2 separate regions of the Homo sapiens genome follow, and region 2 is linked to region 1. The links come from fine-mapping of genetic effects on gene expression. A gene starts in region 1. The other region holds a variant in brackets. All regions are shown on one strand. Distances are from middle to middle.

What was found. PIP is the estimated chance that this variant, and not a neighbour inherited with it, causes the effect.
Region 2: its variant is fine-mapped to the expression of KIAA1549 in esophagus mucosa (GTEx, PIP above 0.99).

What each region holds. Positions count from the first base shown.
Region 1 is chr7:138,976,707-138,988,360 of GRCh38, forward strand. It overlaps KIAA1549, which reads right to left and starts at 4,683. Exons shown (of 20, transcript NM_001164665.2): 1 at 4,377-4,683. The coding sequence starts at 4,563. RefSeq lists silencers at 3,297-3,591, 4,431-4,560, 4,601-4,980, 5,001-5,130 and enhancers at 3,602-4,488, 5,111-5,460.
Region 2 is chr7:138,889,475-138,901,128 of GRCh38, forward strand. KIAA1549 reads right to left here. Exons shown (of 20, transcript NM_001164665.2): 9 at 9,481-9,658; 10 at 4,868-5,052. Among named protein-coding and RNA genes, the nearest start is that of KIAA1549, 86 kb to the right of the region's middle. The variant C/T (reference allele first, on the strand shown) is at 6,431.

The DNA of each region.
Region 1 (11,654 bases):
TCCCTTGCAGATAAGGAGGGACTACTATATCTTCAAAATACTGTTAATTTTCAGTTACTGGGTTTACCATATCCGGATCAGTGGTTCCAATGCTCAGGGGCTAAAACGGAGCTGTCAACTTGTTAAAATGAAGATTCCCAGGCACTGCCACCAAAGAGTCTAATTTAGAGGCTAAGGGTGAGTCGTAGACATCTAAATTCTTAACAAGCACCCCCACATCCCCAAATGATGTTGATGCAGGAGGCCTAGGGGCCACACTTTTGAAACATTTAAGTATTTGTTTATAATATCCTAAACGACTCACAAAGCATAAATATTCACCTAGAAATGGCCAATAATAAAACAGCACATTAAGAAAAAAATTTCACACACCATAAGCATAAATGCAATAAAAAAATTATTAAAAGAACAAATGGCAGATCTTGCTAATCAAAACAACCAAAAACTTCTACATTTCAAAATTATGTAAAATTTAAAAGAAATTCCTTTGGAAGGGGAAAACGCAACATATAGAAGGAAAAATGGTTGCTATCCTTCTAATACATAAAGATTTAAATACATATCTATGCCACAACAGGTAAATAAATAAAAATACAGAGAAAATTCACAGAATACAAATACAAAATAAAAAATATTCAATTCTAAAGCAATAAAACCGTGCAGGTTAAAACAATGTATTACAAATTTATTTAACAAGGGCTTTTAAAGTAACATTCAATGCCAGTGATGAAGTGAATACTCAATGCAAGTGATAATGGAAGGCCCCTGCGTAAGCTTCAAGGGCTTATGTCAGCATTATAACTTTCAAAAATTGCTTCATTCAAAAATCACATACTGAGTACCTACTAGGGGCCCAGCATTTTGAACAAAAGATGCAGAAATCCAGCCTGGTGGGCCTTACATTTTAATCACACTCTAATACCCCTTCCACAAATGTATACTCAAGAAAACACACACACACACACACACACACACACACGGAAAGAAACATGCACAAAGCCTTTTTTTTTTGAGACGGAGTCTTGCTCTGTCGTCCAGGCTGGAGTACAATGGCGCCATCTCGGCTCACTGCAACCTCTGCCTCCCTGGTTCGAGCAATTCTCCTGCCTCAGCCTCCCAAGTAGCTGGGATTACAGGCACATGCCACCACACCCAGCTAATCTCTGTATTTTTAGTAGAGACGGGGTTTCACCATGTTGGCCAGGATGGTCTCAAACTCCTGACCTCAGGTGATCCGCCCACCTCGGCTTCCCAAAGTGCTGGGATTACAGGCGTGAGCCAGCGCGCATGGCCAGCAGAGCCTTCTCTATGTAGCTATTCATCAGCATTACTTACAGCAACCCAAAAAATGGAAATAAAAGAATAAATCATTAGGATAGAAAATAGTTTTCAAATAAGACTTAATGAATGGAAAAATGCTTAAGTTAAATGTAGAGTGGAAATGGTAGTAAATACAATTGTGCATATAATTCTTTTTTTAATGTTAACAACAAAAAAACGATAAAATTACTTAGTGTTACCTACAGGCTGTGAGATTATGGGTGACTGGTTTCTGTACCTTTCAGTAATTTCCAAATTCCCTACAAAGCAATCTATTTCATAATAACTATTACTTTTTAAAAACTTATCTCTGAATAAGGTGAAGAAACTGGGCATGATTCTTTGTTTTTATACTGTGGATGGCTAATCACTTAAGAGCAATGCATTCAAAAGTAAGTCCAAAGCATTACAAGTTGTTTCCACAACAGTCAATGGTTAAGACCAAACTTGTAAATTTTTTTTTTAAAAAAACACACTCAAAATGCTGAATGAAATACAAATAGACAAGAAATCGATTTAACATAGAGATTTAACCAAAGACTGTAATAAGGGGACCACCTGGAAGGTGGACTCTATTGAACAAAAGTTAACAAGAGAAGCCAGCTGAAGGAGGAGATAGCTTTCAGACAGCCACGGAAGGGAATGCTGCCTCACATAGGAAGTCCAAAACAGGTCTAAGCCATGCCATTTTCTGACTACCACTGCTTATTCCTTAGAAAGAGAACCAACCACCACAGCAGTGTTCAGCAAAGCTCTCCTACATTCCAAATCTCCTGGTGAAAATACCACACTCAGGACTGGGAGGGCAGCCCAAGCAACTGCAACGCACCCTCTTCCCAGGATCAACAGCACCGCCCAGGCACCCTACACACACCCTAGCTACATCAGGAAGCCACCCTCCACCAAGATCGTTCCTCACAGTCTTCAAGTAGATGGGGTCACCTCCAGCAGGTCATCCATAAGGAATCCTGCCTTTCCTGTCCGGGAATGGTCTGTGCAAGGGTTTGTACTTCCTTCACTGCTCTGTGTTTCCAGCTGGATCCTGGAGCACAGGGGCTGTGCCCTCCACTTCTTAGTTCCTAGTCTATGAGCCTGGCAGCGGCTGAAGCCAATATACAAACCAGTGAAAGGATGAAGTCTCTTTCCATGATGTCAGGTCTAGAATGGAAATATTATTAATTTCATGTCTCCAGGTTGAATATTTGTATTGGGGGTAGAGGGGAAGCAGGAAAGGACTTCCAAAGAAGAGAAGGTTAGGGATGGGCAGTGCAAACAGCTTCACTATTTATTTTAAAGTTACCAGAAGCACTTATATTCTCCACAACCTCTGCAGTACACCCAGATGGCCACATTCATATGGGGAAGCCATCAGGCACAGAAAGGAAGCATGTCATAGAGTCTGAAGCCAAACCAACCTAAACTCAAAGCCTTAGTTTCCTCATCTGTAAAATGGGGATAACTATGCCTAACTCACAACGTGATTGGATCGTGTATATAAAATTCAACATCTGGCACACAAAAAGCACTCAGGAGATGGAAACCATTTATCTGCTGTGTCTTATGACAGATGAATCCACGAGTATCAGATGGGCTCTCTTTGTTGACTAAAGCCAAGAGACCCTTGACAATGATCTCTTCTCCTCTGGACACACAGGGCTGGAACTCGCAGGAGCAGGACTGAGACGGGAGGTCCTAGGTTAGAGTAAGGTGTTTGCACTAGCTGTATACTGCCTAAAAGAGACTCATTCTGTCACCCCAACCCTGGTTCCACCCAGCTATGGGAAATCTCTGCAGAGGCTTCAGGTGTGGATATGTCTATGGGCCAAGAGCGGGGGTGGGAGGCAGGGAAAGTGATGACTGTGACCTTGAGCAAGGCACTTCTCTGCCTTAGTTTCCTCTTTGGTAAGCAGAGTGGACCTGTTCCATGATCCCTGAAGTCCTCCCTGTGCTTCTATTGTACCATCCCCTCTAGGGCACTGGTTATAATTCTCACAGGTCCAAGGGACACCTTCAAATGTGTTCCAATTCCTCCCAGCCACTGAGTAGCCCTTTGGCCCTGCTCCCACGAGAAAGGAGGATTCGGAGCAGCGTTCACGGCTTTCTGGTTTTTGTTCTGTGTGCAGCAGCTCTCCACCCCTAGCTGCTCCTTCCACCTTTCCTTTTCCGCCTCAAAGTGGTCAAGTGCCTGTGCAGGGGCAATCGCTGGCCTGCAGTGTCAGCTCAGAGACGGTTTCCAGACCATCCTGTGTACAGGCTCAGGGTGGACAAATAAACATTTTGGAGAAGCAATAGGAATTAAATCATTTCTTCCACAACAAAACCCTTATGCTTCTTCATAAATCATGCCTCTTCATTCCATACTGATGAACAGTCACTAAATTGCATCTGTTATAAAAACAGCCCTTACTCCTTTCATGCCCAGACACTTAAGAATCAAAATATTTTCACACTCCATTGTACTAATAATGCCTTGCAGAAGTAATACCAATAGCTATTTCCCTGGAAAGATCCGTGGCCAGGGCGCTTTCCAAGAGGTTTTCTTTGAATGTTCTTTGTGTCCTGCTGTACGGGGGGACACGGCCGGCCTGCCCGCATCTGGGGGACGCTGGGCTTGTCCCGGTAATGCAATACTCTTTTAAAGCACACCTCGAATCCACCTCTTCGCCCCGACAATAAAGTATCTCAAAACATTCGATATGCCACATCATACAGCCTTGACAAAAAAGCACGCCGGTGCCTGCATTCTGCAGGAAAAACCAGGCACATTCTGAGATGAAGCCACCAGACCCGCTTCGGGTTCCATGGACAAGAGAACAGCTTTGCAGACCCCTTAGCAAGACCGGCCAGAAGCCGCTCGCTTGTTCGTTTTAATTATTTATTTCCCCCGTGCCTTTATTTGTTGGGCCCCAGAAGAATGGCAAAGCATCTTCCAGAAAGGACGGCGAGGGAGCTGGAGAATAAAAGAGGATGGGCGGGGAAAGCCGGGGTTTTGAAAACAGCAGCGATAAAGGCAGGCGGGGTCGCGGCCGCGTTCCGAGGGTCTCGGCGGAGCTTACCTGGGGCGCACGAGGCCGGCCGGGCCAGCAGCAGCAGCCAGAGGCCAGGAAGCAGCAGCCCCGGGCGGCGGCGGCGGGCGCAGCGGGCGGAAGGCCGTCGGCCGCTCGGCCCCGGGGCCAGCGCGACCCCGGCGCGGGGCTTCCCCTCCATGGCCGCGCCTCGGCGTCGGCGCCGCGCCCCCGGCATTCCCGGCCGGCGCCCCGGCCCGGCCTCGCGGCTCAGCGGCTCTCGGGTCCGGGAGGGGCGGCCGCTGCGGCTGCGGCTGGGACGGGGCGCCGCGCACCGGCGCGGAGGGAGGCCGGAGAGGCGGGGGCGGGCCGGGCCGGAACCGAGGACAGGGGCGCCAGCCGCACGCCCGCCTTGCCGCTCCGCCCCCTTCGGAGCCTCGGAGCCGCTGCCCGGCAACGCGCGGGCCCGGGCGCGGGACGGCGAGCACCCCCTCCCGGCCGGCCGGACGCCTGCCTGCCTGCCTGCCTGCCTGCCTGCGGGGCGGCCGGGGCAGCGTGCGCGGGGCTCGGCGCGGCAGAGGCGGCAAGGGCGGCGAGGCGGCGCGGCCCAGCCCTCCCCCAGGACCCGCCTTCCGGAGGGAGCGCGAGGGGCTCGGGGGGCCTGGGCCGGGCGGTGCCGCCCCGACCCGCACCCAACCCCGGGTCCCGCCGCGCGTTCCCCGGGGCGCCCGGATCAGGGTAGGCCGGCAAGCCGGGGGAGGGGTCCTCTCGCCTCCCTCGCTCCTCCTCTCCCGCCGACTCCTTGCGGGCAGCAGGTGTGTGGGGCGCCGCGCTCTCAGGACAGCCTCGGGGCCGCGGAGGGGACAAAGCCAGACAAAGTCGGGCTCCTGCGCTAGAGCTCAGCGTGCAAGGCAGGGGCGAGCAGAGCGCACGCAGCTCTCCCCCGCCTTCCTGCCTTAAGAAGGTGCGGCCACCTCTGCGGGTCTTCGGGAAGCGACCCTGCGCTCAGGGCCTGGGAGGCCCGCGGGACCCTGCACTTAGCAGGCCTTGAGCAGGCGGCTGCTGAAGCGAATGGGCGTGGAGCTGGGGAGACCCGCAAGGCCAGGCCGTTTTAGGGAAAGTGGCGCTCCTGAGAGGTGGAGAGAATGCCCAGAGAGCGTTTGAGGGTTGGAGTCCGCGGGGGGAATGAGGAACGGGAAGAAGGGAGTTGACATCTGTCAAGTACCTACTGTGTGCCAGGCACGTCACTCTGAAGACGCCCCGTGGCTTCAGGGTCTAGGGAGGAGGAATTGGAAGTTTTGAATCGTTGCATCCCACTGGCATTGTTGCATCAAGCAGATATTAACGGTGTGTGTGGGGGACACTATCTCGTGCAGAAAAACTATGGCAGACAGCGGAAAAGGTGAATCATTACACTGGCAGAGGGATCCTCGCGGCTATTCAGTCGGGTTCCCCTGCCAGGCCCAGCCCTTGAAGGGGCTGCCCAGCCTTGCAGCTCCAACTCTTCTGGACTCCTTGCCCTTGGCGAATAGTTCTTCCTAAGAATAGGACAGGGGCACTCTTCTGTAGGTACACACCTGGTCCTTACAGGTGGGTACTTGAAACCTGGTAGTTTCAAGGAAAATGAGAATAAAGGTTAAAAAAAGCTTTTGTTGATGTTCCTGGTGTTTTTACACGTTATTGTAACCCCCCATCATACAGCCCCTATGTTTATTACAGTAACTGCTCCTGTCTCCCAAAGAGGGTTCTGCGTGCACACCCAGGTAAGTACCTAAGAGAAACTGCCCAGATATGTCTGGTCCCAGGACACCATGGCCATAGATCTGGGACCTCTTATTCACACACTTATCTTTATTCTCTGAACTCTCTATAACAGCACATTTGACCACAAACCACTGCCTTCGTGCAACTCTTGAATGGTCTTGTCCTGTTGTGTTGTTTTATCTTTTATGAATTTATGCTTTGCACACACAGCCCCCACCCCACCTCCAATAAATTAATATGAAATTCAAATATGGTGCTATCCTGCTTAGGATTTCTCATAGCCCCAGTAAGCCCTCAGTAGACAATCGTTGGTTTGAGCCAGAGCATGCATTCCGCCCGTGAAGAGGTTCCATCTTCAGATTTGGCCTCAGCCTCCTGCAAGCTGCCATCTACACTAGACCCGTTGGTGTCAGAGAAAAAAGCCTCCCTCGGCCATGCGCGGTGGCTCACGCCTATAATCCCAGCACTTTGGGAGGCCAAGGCAGGCAGATCACCTGAGGTCAGGAGTTCAAGACCAGCCTGGCCAACATGGCAAACCCCGTCTCTAATAAAAACACAGAAAAATTTACCCAGGCATGGTGGCACGTGCTTGTAATCCCAGCTACTCAGGAGGCTGAGGCAGGAGGATCACTTGAACCCAGGAGGCGGAGGTTACAGTAAACCAAGATCACGCCACTGCACTCCAGCCTGGGTGCCACAGCAAGACTCCATCTCAAAAAAAAAAAAAAAAAAAAAAGGAAAAGAAAAAAGAAAGGAGTCTCCTTCTCCATTCTCTGCAAACTCAAAGACAATAGTGTTTGCCCTGCCATTAAGAGATTGATCAGCTGGAAGTAAAAATAAAAATTGGAACCCTGAGATACTAGAAATGACTCATGGACACCAAAGTGTCCGTGGAAAGTGAGGTCCCTAGGGTCCCTTAGTCTCCCAGCTCTGAAGGCATAAAACAAAATCTTACCTCTGTTAGGATTTAAGGCATTCTGCCTCCATGTCTGGGAAAATGTCTACCAGGCTCTGACAGTCCAGCTGGTAGGTGGTGTTACTCTGCAGACTCAGAGGGGATGAGTGGTCCTTGGAGGTAGGGGAGTGTGTGCAAATGTGTGTGTGTGTGTAAGATTTTAAAATCGATTTTAGAGATCATCTCATCCAATTCTCATAGATAAAGAAACAAGCCAGAGAGGTTAGTTTATTTCCATAAGGCTCAACTCCAACTGGAATTGTCGTCTCCAGTTAAACCACACACCCTCCAGGGGAGGGGGAAAATTAACCTGGGTCCTCGATAGGCTTACAATCTGGTTTGGAGACAGGGAGAGGTAGGCTCAGTACTATCCTTAGACCTAGACGAAGCGGGCCCCACTCTGGCCTTCTCAAACTGCACCTCTCTCCTCAGGACAGAGTCTGTGAAGCCCAGGAAGCACCCTCACCAGCAGCCCATCTTCCCATGCTCAGGTGCCCAGGACCCCAGAATCCTGCCCATTTCACCCCAGGCTCATCTTCAGGCCTATGTGGCCTCTTCCTCAAGTCCATTCTCCCAAGGCTGCACCAAGGGTGTGTCTGGTCCCACGGGGTAGTTGTTTGCTAGGGAGTGGCAAAACTTACGCAGGAGGCATCTCTAAAGATGCGCACATGAAACCTATAGGAATGAAGCAGAGGACCAGGGATGGGAAGAGAAGATCGGGCATGGCCCATATTCACATGGCAACCTGGCTGCGATGTTCTGCTCACAACTGCAGGAAGTCTGCGAATCCTGCCTGTGAACCAGCCTAACCATTCTGAAGACATACGTTTGTTAAGGTAGAACAGACATATTTAATAGTTTGCTTGCTTGGCATGTAACTTGCTGATGAAAATCTGGTCATCGATGTGAAATGGCCAAAATGGCCAAATGTGAAATGGGCTGCGTGAGCCCCTATTTGCACTCTTGACCTGGGCCCCTCAATTCTTAGGGTCTGGATAAGGATGGGACAGAGGGACTGAAGTTAGAGGATGGCTGGAAGTCGGTAGAGGGTAGTGTGAGAGTCCTAGAATAGGAATCAGGACAGCTGAGTTCTGCGTTCTGCTCTGTCACAGAAAAGTTTATGAACTTGAACAAAATGCTTCACCCTACTCTCAAACCTCAAATGTTCTTATCTGATGATGGGCTTCACATGCCTACCTTGCTTAGCTGTGGGTTCGGTTCTTAAGAGAATTATACAAAATAAGATGAATGTTCACAAAGGTCATTCATTAAATTCAATGAATATTTTTTGAGCATGTACCATATGCCAGGCAGTGCAGTGGGCACTGGAGGTATAACGGTGAACAAAACAAAGGCCCTTCCTCGTGGAACTTATGTTCTAGTGAGAGGAGACAGGCAATCAGTAAGTGAGCCTTCGGCTGATGACAACAATTTGCAGAATAACAAAGAGGGAAAAGGAGTGAGGGAAGGGTCAGTGTTACTGTGTTAAATAGAATAGTCAGGGATGATCACCCTACTAAGGTGACATTGGGCCATGGGGATAGCTGGGGAAGAGGGTGTCAGGCAGAGGGAACAACTGTGCAAAGTGGAGAAGTAGCCAGAATAAACATTCAAAAAATATTTACTGAGTCCCTACTAAGTAAGCGCCCCGTAGAGTCATGTGCTAAATGATCAGTAAGATTAATTAGGCCGGGCACAGTGGCTCACGTCTGTAATTCTAGCACTTTGGGAGGCTGAGGCAGGTGGATTGCTTGAGCCCAGGAGTTTGAGACCAGCCTGGGCGACATGGTGAGACTCCCATCTCTATGAAGAAATCCAAAACATTAGCTAGGCATGGTGGCGTGCACCTGTAGTCCCAGCCACCCGAGAGGCTGAGGTGGGAGGATCACCTGAGCCTGAGGAGGTCAAGGCTGCAGTGAGCCGTGATCATGCCAGTGCACTTCAGCCTGGGCAACAGAGCTAGACCCTGCCTCAAAAAAAAAAAAAATAATAATTGTCTACAGTTTTTTCAAGGAGCTTACAGTCTTACGGGAAAAAAAAAAACAAATTTTAAAAACCTACATATTGCAAAGTAGAACATGACAGATGTCCGAAGGAAGTTATAAAAAAAAGTTCAAAGAAGTAGAAATCATATTTGGCACAAGAGATCAAGCAAAGCTTCAGTGTAGTGTTGCATGGAAGCTGGGTGTTAGGGGGCGCCTAAAAAATGAAGAGGACTTGGACAGCTAAAGAGAACAGGACAGGTGTTCCAGGTGGAGGGAACCAACAGTACAAAAATATAAAGGCAGGAATGCATGAAATTTATCTAGCTGATGGCCAGATCAGCTAGAGCAGTGGTTCACAATGCTGACTGCAAATTAAAATCACCTGGACACCACAAACAAAACAAAACAGAACACCCCCAGGCCACACTTCAGACCAGTAAAATCCAAATCTCTGCAGACCAGGCTTGGACAGCCCTGTCTTTTAAAAGCTTCCCAGGATTCCAGTGTGTAAGAACCATTGAGCTAGATGTCTAAGAGTGAGACTTTATAATCACTTACTGAAAGTGGTAAGACATACCAGACCTAGAGAGGCGCAGCAGAGAAGAGAGAAAAGGGAAGCTGATATAGAACAAGGAGAGCTTAAAGATCTGGCTGAAGGGTTTGGACTTAATTTTGTAGGTGACGGTGGATCATTAAAGATTTGTTCAGATATTATTAGAACTAAGCACAAGAAGGATTACTCTATTAACATTATATAAGATGATTTGGAAAGAGAAAAGACTAAAGAGGAGACCAATTAAAACAAGATTTTTTTTTTTTTTTTTTTTTTGAGATGGAGTCTAGCTCTGTCACCAGGCTGGAATGCAGTGACGCAATCTATGCTCACTGCAACCTCTACCTCCCCGGTTCAAGCGATTCTCCTGCCTCAGCCTCCCGAGTAGCTGGGACGGCAGGCGCACATCACCACGCCCAGCTAATTTTTTTGTATTTTTAGTAGAGGCGGGTTTTCACCATGTTGGCCAGGCTGGTCTTCATCTCTTGACCTCGAGATCCGCCTGCCTCGGCCTCCTAAAGTGCTGGGATTACAGGCGTGAGCCACTGCACCTAGCCAGAACAAGATCTTAATGCTGCTGCATGAATATCAAGGATCAAAATATTTTTCACCATCAAACAGACAAAACTTTTAAAATTTTGATTATATTCATTTGTATATTCAAGTGTATAGCAAAATAGGCACTCTCGAATTCTACTGGTGTAGCCATTTTGGAGGATAATTTGACCTTATCTATCAAAATATAAAATCAGCTCACTTCCTTTTCCTTTTTTTTTTTTCAAGTCAAGTTTAATTCAGCTGGCAAATTTAGTCAGGTAATTTAATCAGATAAAATTCACCTTTTTTGGCCAGGCGTGGTGGCTCATGCCTGTAATCCTAGCACTTTGGGAGGCCAGGATGGGTGGATCACGAGGTCAGGAGTTTGAGACCAGCCTGACCAACCTGGCAAAACCCCGTCTCTACTAAAAATACAAAAATTAGCCAGGTGTGGTGGTGCGTGCCTGTAATCCCAACTAGTCGGGAGGCTGAGGCAGGAAAATAGCTTGAACCCGGAAGGCGAAGGTTGCAGTGAGCAGAGATCACATCATTGCACTCCAGCCTGGTGACAGAGCGAGACTCTGTCTCAAAAAATAAATAAATAAATAAATAAAAGTTCGCCTTTTTTTTTTCAGGTTTTAAAAATAATCTTTATTTTTTAAAAGTTAATATGTACAATTCAGGAAACTGAAAAACACAAGAAGCAAAGAACAAAGCTATCCACAATCATAAGCAGTTTGATGAAAATTCACCTTTTAAAAATGTTCAGTGAGTTTCAACAATTCTATGAAATCCTATAACCACCACCACATTCAAGGTAAAGAACATTTACATTGCCCTTAAAGTTCCCTTGTGCCAGCTTGCAGTCTATCCCATACCCTCCCTCTGACAGCCACTGATCTGATTTCTGTTTCTACAGCTTTGCCTTTTCCAGCATTTGACATAAATGGAATTATATAGTATGTAGCACTTTGTGTCTGGTTTCTTTTACTTAGCATAATGTCTGAGATTCATCCAAGTTGTTGCATGCGTCAGTAACTTGTTCCTTTCTATTGCTTAGTAGTATTCCATTGAATGGATATACCACAATTTGTCCAGTCACCAACTGATGAACATTTGGATTGTTTCCAGGTTTTTGGTCATTATTAATAATGCTGCTAAAAACATTTGTTTTCAGGTATTTTGTGTGAACATATGTTTTCATTTCTCTTGGGTAAATACCTAGGAGTAGATCTGCTAAGTCATGTGATAAATGTAAATTTAACTGGGTGGCGTGATAAATGTAAATTTAAACTGCCCAACTGTCTTCCCAGGTGGGATATATTTTAGATCCCCACCAGCAATGTATGAAAGGTCTAGTTGTTCCATACCCTTGTTAGCACTTGATTTTGTTAGCCTTTTTAATTTGAACCATTCTAGCAAGTGTCTAATGATATCTCATTGTGCACTTAATCTGCCTTGTCCTCATGACTAATGATATTGAACACTCTCCATGTGTTTATTTGCAATCAATATGTCTTCTTTGGTGGCATGTC
Region 2 (11,654 bases), 87 kb before region 1:
GAGTTATAAATAAGAATTTAGATACAATATTTTGTTAAGTCAACAACAAGATGCGACACAGGGTCCCTCAAGAAATAGCTGATGACCAGATGAATTTCAAAACGCTCAACTGAAGTACCAAACTGACTGGTTTTTTTCTGGGTAACCAAGAAAACGGCACGTGTCATAAATGAAATATACAAGTCCTCTTGGCTTACTGTTGATTCTGACCAAAGTCTTTAAATACATCCATTAGATCCTTGCACTTCTCACAAACTGAGTGAGTCATCACCTTCTATACCAATAGAAATTTGGCAACCAGTCTGTGCGTATTATGCACAAAACAAAAGCCATCTACACACAGAAGGAAAACCTAGAGGGAACACTGCCCCTCCTCCCTTAGATAATTACCTTCTTTTGTCTCATCTCTACTTGCCAGATCACTTTTTCTAGTTTCTCCACTTCTTTTAAAATAGAACCTAGAGTTCAGTCTGGCTGGTATACAATGTCTCCAGCTCCCTCCCACATGCAGCATAGGTTTAATCAGTATTTTATAAAAGAAGAATCAAGATTAATGAGAGTGTTCAATATTCATATTAGGACCGAGTTATTTCTGAAGAAGGATGGCTCTTTTGTTCTTTCTCTCTTTAACATATCACAGAGGGAACAGGCCACAGTGTCTGTGCCCCACCGGAATACGTCACCAACAAGCCCAGGAGACTGACTGGTGGGCAGGTCAGCCAAGTAATGAGAGAGACGCCTGATGAATGTGAACACGTGGGCCATAAATACAGTACAGCCCAGGTGGCACAAAACGCAGTGAAGCCCACAGTATTCGGGTTAGCCTGAGCCCCTGGGAAGGAGTTGAGATGACAATAGAAACACAGAGCAAATCCCAAAAGTGTCTGAACAAAAATTTGCCATCATGTAGCGAGTGCCATTGAAAGCATTTATTACCTGATTGATGTCATTTGTGAAACGTCACCACAACCACCATGCTGCTTCCATTTAGGAAGTGGAGACAAGGCAAAGTTATTGCCATCTGTTTGTCTTCAGTGCAGCCCCACACGGGCACTCCCGTAACCCTGTGGTCCCGGAGTTTGGGAGAGCAGGGCTCCCAGATTCTCCCACCCACAGGTGACACCCGGCACGGTCAGCCAGCTGTGGGTGAACTGAGACCACCTACACGTTAGGTGTGACAGGCGACCTTTGCAGAGAATCAAACAGCAACCATAGGGAATGAGCTGACCTTGGCTGAGATGGAACGATATGCTCACAGAGCCTCTTTTCAATTCACTGTCCATACTGCCTCCCAAAGGGATCGTTCCAAAAGCAAATGTGTTCAAGCTGCTCTCCCTGCTGAAAACCTTTCAATGCTTGCCCACTGCTTACAGCATAATTTGCAATCCCTTCTATGTCCTGAAAACCCCCCAGGGCCTGGCTCTCTGCCACCTGGCTTTCGGCTGTGCCCTTTTTTATGACCTTTGCTCTAGCTTCCTGAGCTGCCCTCCGCTCCCCCACTGGGCCCGCCTTCATCTCCACCGTGAAGCTTCAGCCCTGGTGTCACCTCCTTGAAGAAGGTAGAAGTACCCCACCACTGCAAATGGGGTGCCCCCCTCCTCTGTGTTCTCCAGACATCCTTATACTCCTGGATGTCTGCTTTCGGATGGCTCGTCCTTCTCCCTTGCTAAAGCCCTGGAATGCAGAGATCGCGTGCTATTTGTGTTGGTAACTGAGCCGGATCTGGTGTGGCTCACAGCAAATGCTCAATGTTTGGTGAGTGACACCCAGTGCCTGAGGCAGCTCCAGCCGGTTGCCCAAAGTGCTGCCCTTTAGAAGCAACCAAGGGCAGTCAGGAGCTCTGGTCTGACACCAGTAACGAGGTGTGGACTATCCCCCATCAGAAGGAATAAGTTTCCATGAGGCCAGTGGCATCCAGCCAATGCCATTCATGATGAAGAGGATCCGGGCTGGAGTTTTTTAGGCAACAGTAACAAATGATGACTTGAGTCTACAGATAGAGAATACAGATAAAAGAAAGCATGGGGTTTTCTTCTTTATTACTGAAAATAAGCAAAGGCTGTGCCTCAAAACAAGACAGAATGGCCTCTCCCTCCTATCATATTTCAAAATTAATCTACTCCCAGACAATCTGAAGAGGTTTCCTTCTCGTTACGAGGGGAAGGGGGGTGCAGATTTTAGGTCAGCAGATTTATTGTTTCCAGATGTTTGCAGCTCTGGGATTTGCTGAAGGATTTCCGAGAGTATGGTGAGGCGCATCAGGAGGTGGGGAGAGCAGAACGGAGAGAGAGACAACAGCCACATGAGCAGGAGACAGAGCTCTTGAAGTCATAGGGGAGGGTGACATCTCTGCACATTACCCTGAGGACGAGGCTAGAGGCCCTTTGCTATGGCCACATGACCTTAAAAGAAACACGTATGAACTAAAGACATTTGTTTTTAAACTAAATGAAGAGATCATTTTCCCATTTTAAACACACGACAAAATCTATAGGGTGGGTTCCTGTGCCAGCAAAACACGACTGAGCTTCTGCAACACTGGCAAGGCTTTGCCCTCCTAACAGTGTCAGAAGACAGTTATTCTTTTGGGGAATCCTCCCTGCAGGACCTTTTCTGTAAACCTGTTGTCAGGATGTATGGGCAGGTCTTTGCAGCCCTGAAGGAAAAAGAGCAGCTCTAAGGGCTGGAAGTTCCATCTGAAACTCTGTCCATTTGATTTACAGCCACATCTGGGACTTGAAAATGTTTAGGAAGTAAAAGTGAGAGAAGGAGAAAGCTTGGGGAATATTCCATTTTGACCCCAAGAGACGCTGTGCTCTGATAATTTACTGAAGTTACAGATAATAGATGGACTTCCATGGCAGTGTATACGTTAGGAAATGTGGCCCATAAAAGACCTAAATACATAACCGTCTACACTGGTTAACTCCCTCTGTAACAACACTCTTCAACAGAACAAAAACATTTCCAAACCTATTGTTGATCTTATTACAGTGAAATTCACACTATGAATCATTTAGTATACCCAGCACTTTTTTTCCAGGTTTCCCCATGCCATTCACCAGTATAACAAGAACAACAAAAGAACCTTAGCAGACTGTGTAAATAATAAACAAAGATAGGCAACAAACATAACATTAATGTATAAAATGCTTTTCATGTACTTGATAGCCATAAGCTTGCAATTTAATAAATACTTTGCATTTTTTTGTTAATTCATATGAAAAGACAAATACTCTTTCTTTGCTTTTACAAAAGTAAAATAAATTTTAAAGTAATGCATATTTTTTTTCCATTCGACAGGTCTAGGTTTGTAATATGCAGAATTTTTCATACCCAAGACAACCAAAATAAAGTTTAAAAATAAATAGGGCAATCTTTTATTCTTTGTTTTTTGACTTTTGCTTGTTTTTATCAAGCTTTTAAAGCAGGATGAGTCCTCCAAATCTGGGAGACCCACGGAAAGTGCATGTTAATCCAGCAGACTGTTAGTAACAGTGGACTGACTACCACGTTCCACTCCCTTGGTAAACACGCTGACTGATACTTATGCTGTACTAGTGAGTGCTCCTCTAGGCCTGGCATGTTTTTGCTCACACCAGGTGAGCTCAATGTTGACCAAAAGTCAATGTCTTTGCTCTGAAACCTGATGTGACCCTCGAATACTATGGAAACTGTTGAAACATACGTTGGAAAAGAAAATTGCTATTTCTATAAACACTTAAGTTGAATGCTTTGGAAAGACATAGGAAAGAGGGGTTACTTAAAAAATCTGCTGTCAAATTAGGTGTGAGTGAATTAACTCAAAAGTCTGCAAAATTAGGAGATAGGGAGTGGGGGGAGGTATTAAAAAAATCGAGAGAACTTTGCATTCAGGTAGCTTTGCTCTTCTCTAAGATAGGGAGTGGGGGGAGGTATTAAAAATCGAGAGAACTTTGCATTCAGGTAGCTTTGCTCTTCTCTAAAGAAACCCAAACTGGAACCTGAAACTGACACGTCATGGGTGTTGTTTATTGTAAGAAAGACCAAACACAATTCCTCTCAGTAGACCAACACTCAAAACAAAACAAGACTTGGGATATGTTGAAGGATTGGCAAATAAATGTCCATTCATATATTTTAAGTTAAAATGTTCAAGGTATGTATTGTTCGTTTTTAATGATCAAGGTGGGTAAGTGGGCTTCCAAATAGGGTGAACAGAAAATAAAGCAACTGACCAATGGAGTTGTACACAAAATAGATAAACAGATCTGAGAAAGTCTGCCTTGGCTCCTATCCTCTGAAAATATCCAGGGATAAAATAAATCAGAATTCGGCCTGGTGCGGTGGCTCATGCCTGTAATCCCAGCACTTCGGGAGGCCAAGGCAGGCAGATCTTTTGAGGCCAGGAGTTCGAGACCAGCCTCGCCAACATGGCAAAACCCTGTCTCTACTAAAAATACAAACACTGGCCAGGTGTGGTGGCACACGCCTGTAATCTCAGCTATTCGGAGACCGAGGCAGGAGAATCGCTTGAACCCAGGAGGCGGAGGCTGCAGTGAGCCAAGCTCACGCCACTGCACTCCAGCCTGGGTGACAGAGCCAGACTCTGTCTCAAAAAATACAAAATAAAATCATAGTAGAACCCGGAGGGCATGTCATGGCTAGGCTTTTATACAGTTTCACATTCTTGGACTGTATTTACTACCACAGAAGGAGGGTTTCAGGAAGCAGAAACAAAGGCAAAGTGATACCACTATTAAAGCCAGAAGATTTCCATAATAGCCCTCCCTCTTCCTCATCTTTCAGTATCAAGAGCCCAAACTCATCCTATCCCTGCCCCACAAAACTGCTTATAGGAACACTGGGGGAAGAGGCTGCCCGTTACCTTCTGACGCTGCTGAATGTTGGCCACAGTGTCAGGCTGAAAGTCTAGCTTGTCTGTGCGGCATAGTTTCCAGTAGAGGATGACAACAATCACCATCACCACCAGCACTGGGATGACCACGCCAACAATGACCCACAAGTTGTTGCTCTGGGATTCCGGAGACGGCCTCTTCACCCTGTCGACAGCTGCAGACAAGGAAGAAAGGTCTTTCAATAATTCCTTCTTCACTCATGCACTAGATTGCACGTGTCTTCTATGAGAAACTCAGAAGTCCCTGACATTCCAGCTCAAGATAGCTGGTTCCAGGTTCTAATCTCCTGATGACAGGAAATGTGACCAGCAGAGAAACACAACATACAATGTTACATCTAGAATACATCAGGGATCACAACGACATATGGATATATCCAAAGGTACATGGCTGAATTAATGGCAAAGCTCAGTTAATTCCAGGTCTCCTGATTTCCAGTTTATTCTACTAGCTCACCCGTAACTTATCACTGCAGGATATTTCCACACCAAAACTGGTTCTGCACAACTTTGTACAAAGGCAGTTCTCTTCAAAAGTGGAGAGAAAAACAGCTGTGTCTCCAGAACATAATCCTGCCCGCTCCATCAAGTACCGCAGGACTCACACCCTCCTAGATCACATAAAGCACATGCATCTCAACTAGGAGTTTATGGAAGAAAACCCTTCATCTCTTTCTCCCTTCCCTCACTACTCCAAGTTTCTCATGTTCACAAATGTTTATTAAGTGTGCTGGACACAGTTTGTAAGCTGGGACTCAACCATGAACAAGCGAAATCCCTTGAGGTGCTTAAGTCCTAGTGGGGGAAAGGAGAAATGATCAAGTAAATGAATCACCGAATAATTTCATATTGCACTAGTGCCAAACACAAAGCAAAACAGAGTAAGGAGATACGACATGTGCACCAGTGCAACTGGTCGTTTCCCCTTCAGCAATGAAAAATGACAAAGAGATGCTGATGTTCGTAGCAGCGCTATTCACGACAGCCTAAAAGATGAAAAGAACTCAAATGCCCATCCACAGATGAATGAATGAACAAAATGTAGTATAGCCATACAATGGAATATCATTCAGCTTTAAAAGGGAAGGAAATTCTATACATGCTGCTGCACAGATGAACCTTGAAAACATCATGATAATGGAACAAGCCAGTCACAAAAGGACAAAATGTATGATTCTACCTACATGAGGTATCTAGAAAAAAACTCATAGAAAGCTTCTGCTTGGAATGATGAAGAAATTCTGGAAATGGATAGTGGTGATGGTTACACAGCCTTGTGAACGTACTGAATGCCACTGAAGTATACATTTAAAAGTGTTAAATTGGTACATTTCTTGATGTATATTTTACTGCAATAAAAAAAGAAGGAAGATGATCCTTATGTTTTCCAAAATGAAGCTTCACTGTGTTAATTTGGAAACTGAAGTCCTAATAAGCGTCCCATAGGCACTGCCTTCATTGCCCCACCTGTGTCTCTCCCTAAACCTTTGAAACATGACTCATCGAAACGGCATTATTTAAGCTACCAGTTGT[C/T]CACTTTTACACGAAGCATATCTTACTCATTTTGGATCCACCACTCCCCACCCTGCTGCCACACCCACCCCACCCGGCCCCCACTTCTCTTTCACGGCATAGGACAGTTGCACTTCAACTCCTCGGCCACTTCATGTCCTTCACTAGCTCTTTGTTTTGCACATGGTGCCTTACTGCTCATTTAAAATGCTTCCTGTTATATAAATGGATAATCCGTGAAGTGCTACGCTTCTGCACTCATTCATCCGGTCTTGACGCCAAATCTTGTCTTTTCAAAAACATCTTAGTTTTCATGGGCAGGGACTAAGTCTTATGCTCCTTTCATACCCTATGATGGTTAACACCTGCTATGGGATCAAAAGGTATCTGCTCAAAGACGTAATAACAAAAAGGGTTCTTGGTGCTGGTTTAACTTTGGGTTTAGACACCTAAGGGAGTGGCAAGGGAGGGAGCAAGCATTCTAAATCAAATGCACCAGGGAAAAAAGCACAGATTAGAGCACAGGCTGCATGGGATGTGGTAAAAAGCAACAAAGTGAAAAACTTGTGTTTTTTAATTTGGGCTGAATATAGTTAATATATGTAGCTCATTTTGCATAAAAGCAACGGACAATATAGAAGTACGGACAGAATCAAACTGAGAAGCTGAGACAACTGGACACTCTTCTTAGTTCTTTTGTGGGTGTGGTTGTTTTTTTTTTTTCTTTTTGAGATAGGGTCTCACTCTATCACTCAGGCTAGAATGTGGTGGCACAATCAAGCTCACTTGCAGCCGCGACCTCCTGGGCTCAGGTGATCCTCCTGCCTCAGACCCCCCAAGTAACTGGGACCACAGGCATGCCCCACCATGCCCAGCTAGCTTATTATTATTATTATTTGTAGAGATGGGGTCTTGCTATGTTTCCCAGGCTGGTCTTGAACTCCTGAGCTCAACTGATCCTCCTGCCTCTATCTCCCAAAGTGCTGAGATTACAGGTGTGAGCCACCACACCTGCCCTCTTCTTACTCTAACCTAGGAAAACCCTGATGAGGCAGAGGTTGATCAAACTGGACCCTGACACCAGTGTCCTGGGGCTGCCTTTGGGCTATCCCTGGTGTTGGCTGAGGCTTCCTTCAATCGCCATCCCTGAGATCCCAGGATCTTTACCCACGTGGTTTTCGGTACAAAACTGAGGAAAAGAGGTGCAAGATCACATCTGAAAGGTGCCCATATTCTATTGCAATTAGCTGTTTAAAATGTCAAGTGCTTGGCTGGAGTAGGGCACGTCTCCTACAATCAGGAATCGCATATATGAAGAACTGTAACGAAGTGCTTTTGCTATTTTTTGCTCACTGCTTTGGAGGAGAACACATCAATATGTGATCATATCTCACATACACAAACACAAATTGCCAATGGTTATTTGCTTAAACCCTCCCATCATCTTCCATAAAATAGAGAAATTATGCCCATCAGCTCTCATCTTGGTTGGTCTCCAGGGACAAGTACAGATTTCATAAAAACCTTCTACTATCAAGGATAATTTAAAAGCTATCATTTTTTAAAAATTGTCTTTATCTCCTACATGTTCTCCATAAAGATTTTTCTGTATTCTCTGATGCTGAATTCCCTCTAAACATTTACCTCTCCTTTTATTGCTGGGAGCAAGTTTCACCATTCTCTTACCAAGACTGCTTGCAGGATCACAAAGGAAAAACACTGACATTAAAAGAGGTGTGGTGGCTCATGGTTGGGATTCCAACACCTTGGGAGGTCAAGGTGGGAGGATTGCTTGAGCCAGGGGTTCAAGACCAGCCTAGGCAACATGGCAAGACCCTGTCTCTACAGATAATAAGAAAAAATCGCTGGGTGTAGTGGTGGTGACTGTGGTCCTAGCTACTCAGGAGGCTGAGGCAGGAGGATCACCTGAGCCCAGGAGTTTGAGGCTGCAGTGAGCTACGATCAAGCCACTGCACTCCAGCCTGGGTGACAGAGCAAGACCCTTTCTCAAAAAAAAAAAAAAAAAAAAAAAAAAAAAAAGAGGAATCTGATTCACACCGTAAAGGACTATTTAGAAAAATACACTCTTCCATGTGCCTCCTTTTTCTTCAATTTTAAATACTCAAAATCTGTGAGGTGGGGCCGGGTGCAGTGGCTCACACCTGCAGTAATCCCAGCACTTTGGGAGGCCAAGGCAGGCAGATCACAAGGTCAAGAGATCGAGACCATCCGGGCCAACATGGTGAAACCCCGTCTCCACTAATAATACAAAAATTAGCTGGGCATGGTGGTGTGCTCCTGTAGTCCCAGCTACTTGGGAGGCTGAGGCAGGAGAATCACTTGAACCCGGGAGGCAGAGGTTGCAGTGAGCCGAGATCACACCACTGCACTCCAGCCTGGTGACAGAGTGAGACTCCATCTCAAAAAAAAAAAAAAAAAAGCAAACAAATCTGTGAGGTGGAAAGGAAACTACTGACAGCAGCCAGGGCCAGGCAGGCAGGAGTGAAACCTTCCAACAATAATAAAGAAACTTCAAAATACCTCTGTCTACACTGTGGAGTGACGTGAGGATAGGTGGGAGAGAAACAGGACTGAAAAGGGGAAGGATCAAGGACTTCTCTGTGTTAAAAGACCCTGAAGGAAACCAATAAATTCAGGGTGCACCTCCCAGCTTCCTGCATGACTCACTGTCCCCGCCAATGTTCAAAATATGACACAGAAGATTTTGGAATAAATACAGAGCAAACACATTATTTTGCCTTAGACAAAATTTATAAAAAAAGTAGTAGTACAGGAATGAGGGACAGATATTAAAGTTGATGTACTATAAATCATTATTAACACCCCACCTACAAAATGCTAGGTAGAAAAAACAGCAGTGGAGGCTAAACCTACAAGCAATTGAAATCCAAATAAAGAAGGTCTTGGTGAATGAATTTTAACAACTGGCACTTCACCATCAGGGTTATACACACATCGGAATGCTTTACATTCAGAGCTCACTGTCAGAACGAGCCTGGCTTTGGTGCCCAGCACAGCACAGCACAGACGACAACACCTCAGGCACTTACGCTGGGCAATGACACCTTGAATTCGGTAACCCAAGATGATGGCTGCTCTCTGGAGGTCCATTTTGTTAATCAGGTCCGAAGACTTGACTGCACTGAGTCTTTCTCCATCTTGATCCTCCACAAAGTAGATGAGCTGTACCGGATTGTCATCTCCCTCCAGCCTCGACACATTTACCACCTGAAAGATAGCAGAAACCATTCACATTGCAGAAGCTCATGTTTCTAGATGCCCTCTCTCAGGTTGCTGAATCCTGGCTGTGTCACTCAGGATTTATTCCAATCCTCATAATAAGCTCCGTAAGCCATTCAGGGGCCCAGAATCACCATGGTGCTCTCTGTTGATGGGAAGAGGGACAGTGGGGAGTTCCTTTGTGTGGAGTAACAGGTTGCTTCATCTCGCTCTACATCTTTTCTGGGGCCAAGGGGCAGGGAGGCTGCACAGAACCAGGGCTGGCGAGTCCAGGTGGTCTAAAATCATCCCCACAATCTCTGATGTGCTGACCACGTCATAAGAGAGCATCATCCTCCCAACATTAACTGTAGGATTAGGTACATCCCTGGTTCTCTGAAACTATTAATGGTTCTACCCAATCCTTTCTTCAGCCTATTGGTATTTCCTCCTCATTCTGCTAGGGCAGGGCTTCTCAACCTCAGCTCTACTGACAATCCCTTGACATGGGGTGCACTGTAGATGGTTAGTAGTATCCCTGCCCTCTACCCACCAGGTACCCCCATCCTGCACCACCCAAGTTACAACCAAAAACATCCCCAGACACTGCCAGATGCACCCTGGAGGACAAAATCACCCCCACCCACCACAGGTCTATGGACAATAAACCTCATAAATTCATAATCTTGTGGGTCAAATAATACTTTGATTCATCCCAAAACTTCTCTCTTTCTGGTGTTAAAAGACAGTTTTTTATGCCCTTATTTCAAAATCTAGCACACTTGACATATCGTACCTTTTCATTTCACTCTATTTCTCTAATAATATGCAACAATGTGATTACCCCTTTAGACTCCAGCAAAACTCTGAGCTTCTGTCCTGAGAAAAGGATCAGCGAGGGCTCCGAGCTCCTTATTTTACATGTGCCATTTAAATTGCTGGTCTCTACATTTGCCATTGGCAACATGCAGCTGCTACTTCTCTGTCCACACGTATGGGTTTGTAACACTGCCCTGTGCTCTGGACACAGCTGCTGGACCCCTCCTTCACCACGGGAAACTTCTGGCAGATCAGCAATTTCACGATTTCACTGTGAACTCCTTCTTCCAGATCGTGTCTAAAGATCCTTAACAACACACGTCCAAACCCTCTTCCCTCAACAATCTGTTCTTTATGCTTCGTCCTGAGAACTCCCTCCCTGACAACGGTACAGTGGTGATTAATTTTTTATTAGCTTTTAGAATGGAATGCTATGCAAGGGCTACTGAAAAGGAAGTAGATTATATCCATCTGTCTCTCTACCCATGTACCTACTTATTCCATTTTAAAAGTTCTAATAAATTTAAAAAGTATAGTTTCTTCTTCTAGAAATCACAGTCCCCAAAATCCAGTGATACCCACCTTGATTAAAGATTCTACAAGTCTGTCTAGTGCTACAGTTTGGATGTTGGACCCCCTCCAACTCTCTGGTTGAAATGTGATCCCCGATGGTGGTGGGGGAGCCTAATGGGAGGTATCTGAGTCATGGAGCAGATCCCTCATGAATGGTTTGGTGCTGTCCTCGAGGTAATGAGTTCTTGCTCTACTAGTTCCTGAGAGAGCTGGTGTTAGAAAGGGCCTGGCACCTCCCTTCCCTCTCTCTCGCTTCCTCTCTCGCCATGTGATTTTTATACTGGCTTCCCTTCGCCTTCCAGCAAGAGGGGAAGCAGCCTGCGGCCCTCGCCATGACACCAGCACCATGCTTTTTGTATAGCCTGAAGAACCATGAGCCAAATAAACCTCTTTTCTTTACAAACCCAGCCTCAGGTATTCCTTTACGGCAACATCAATGGACTAAGATGTCCAGGCAGAATGTAAGCCAAGAAAATCTAATCCCAGTATCCTTTCTAGACTACTGCCTATGAGATTCCTATCTGGAACCCTTATAACCATGGGAGTCATCATCACTTTGGTTAACATTTTCAATTTCAAAATTTATTTTCTGAGCAAAATCACATCTCTCTAG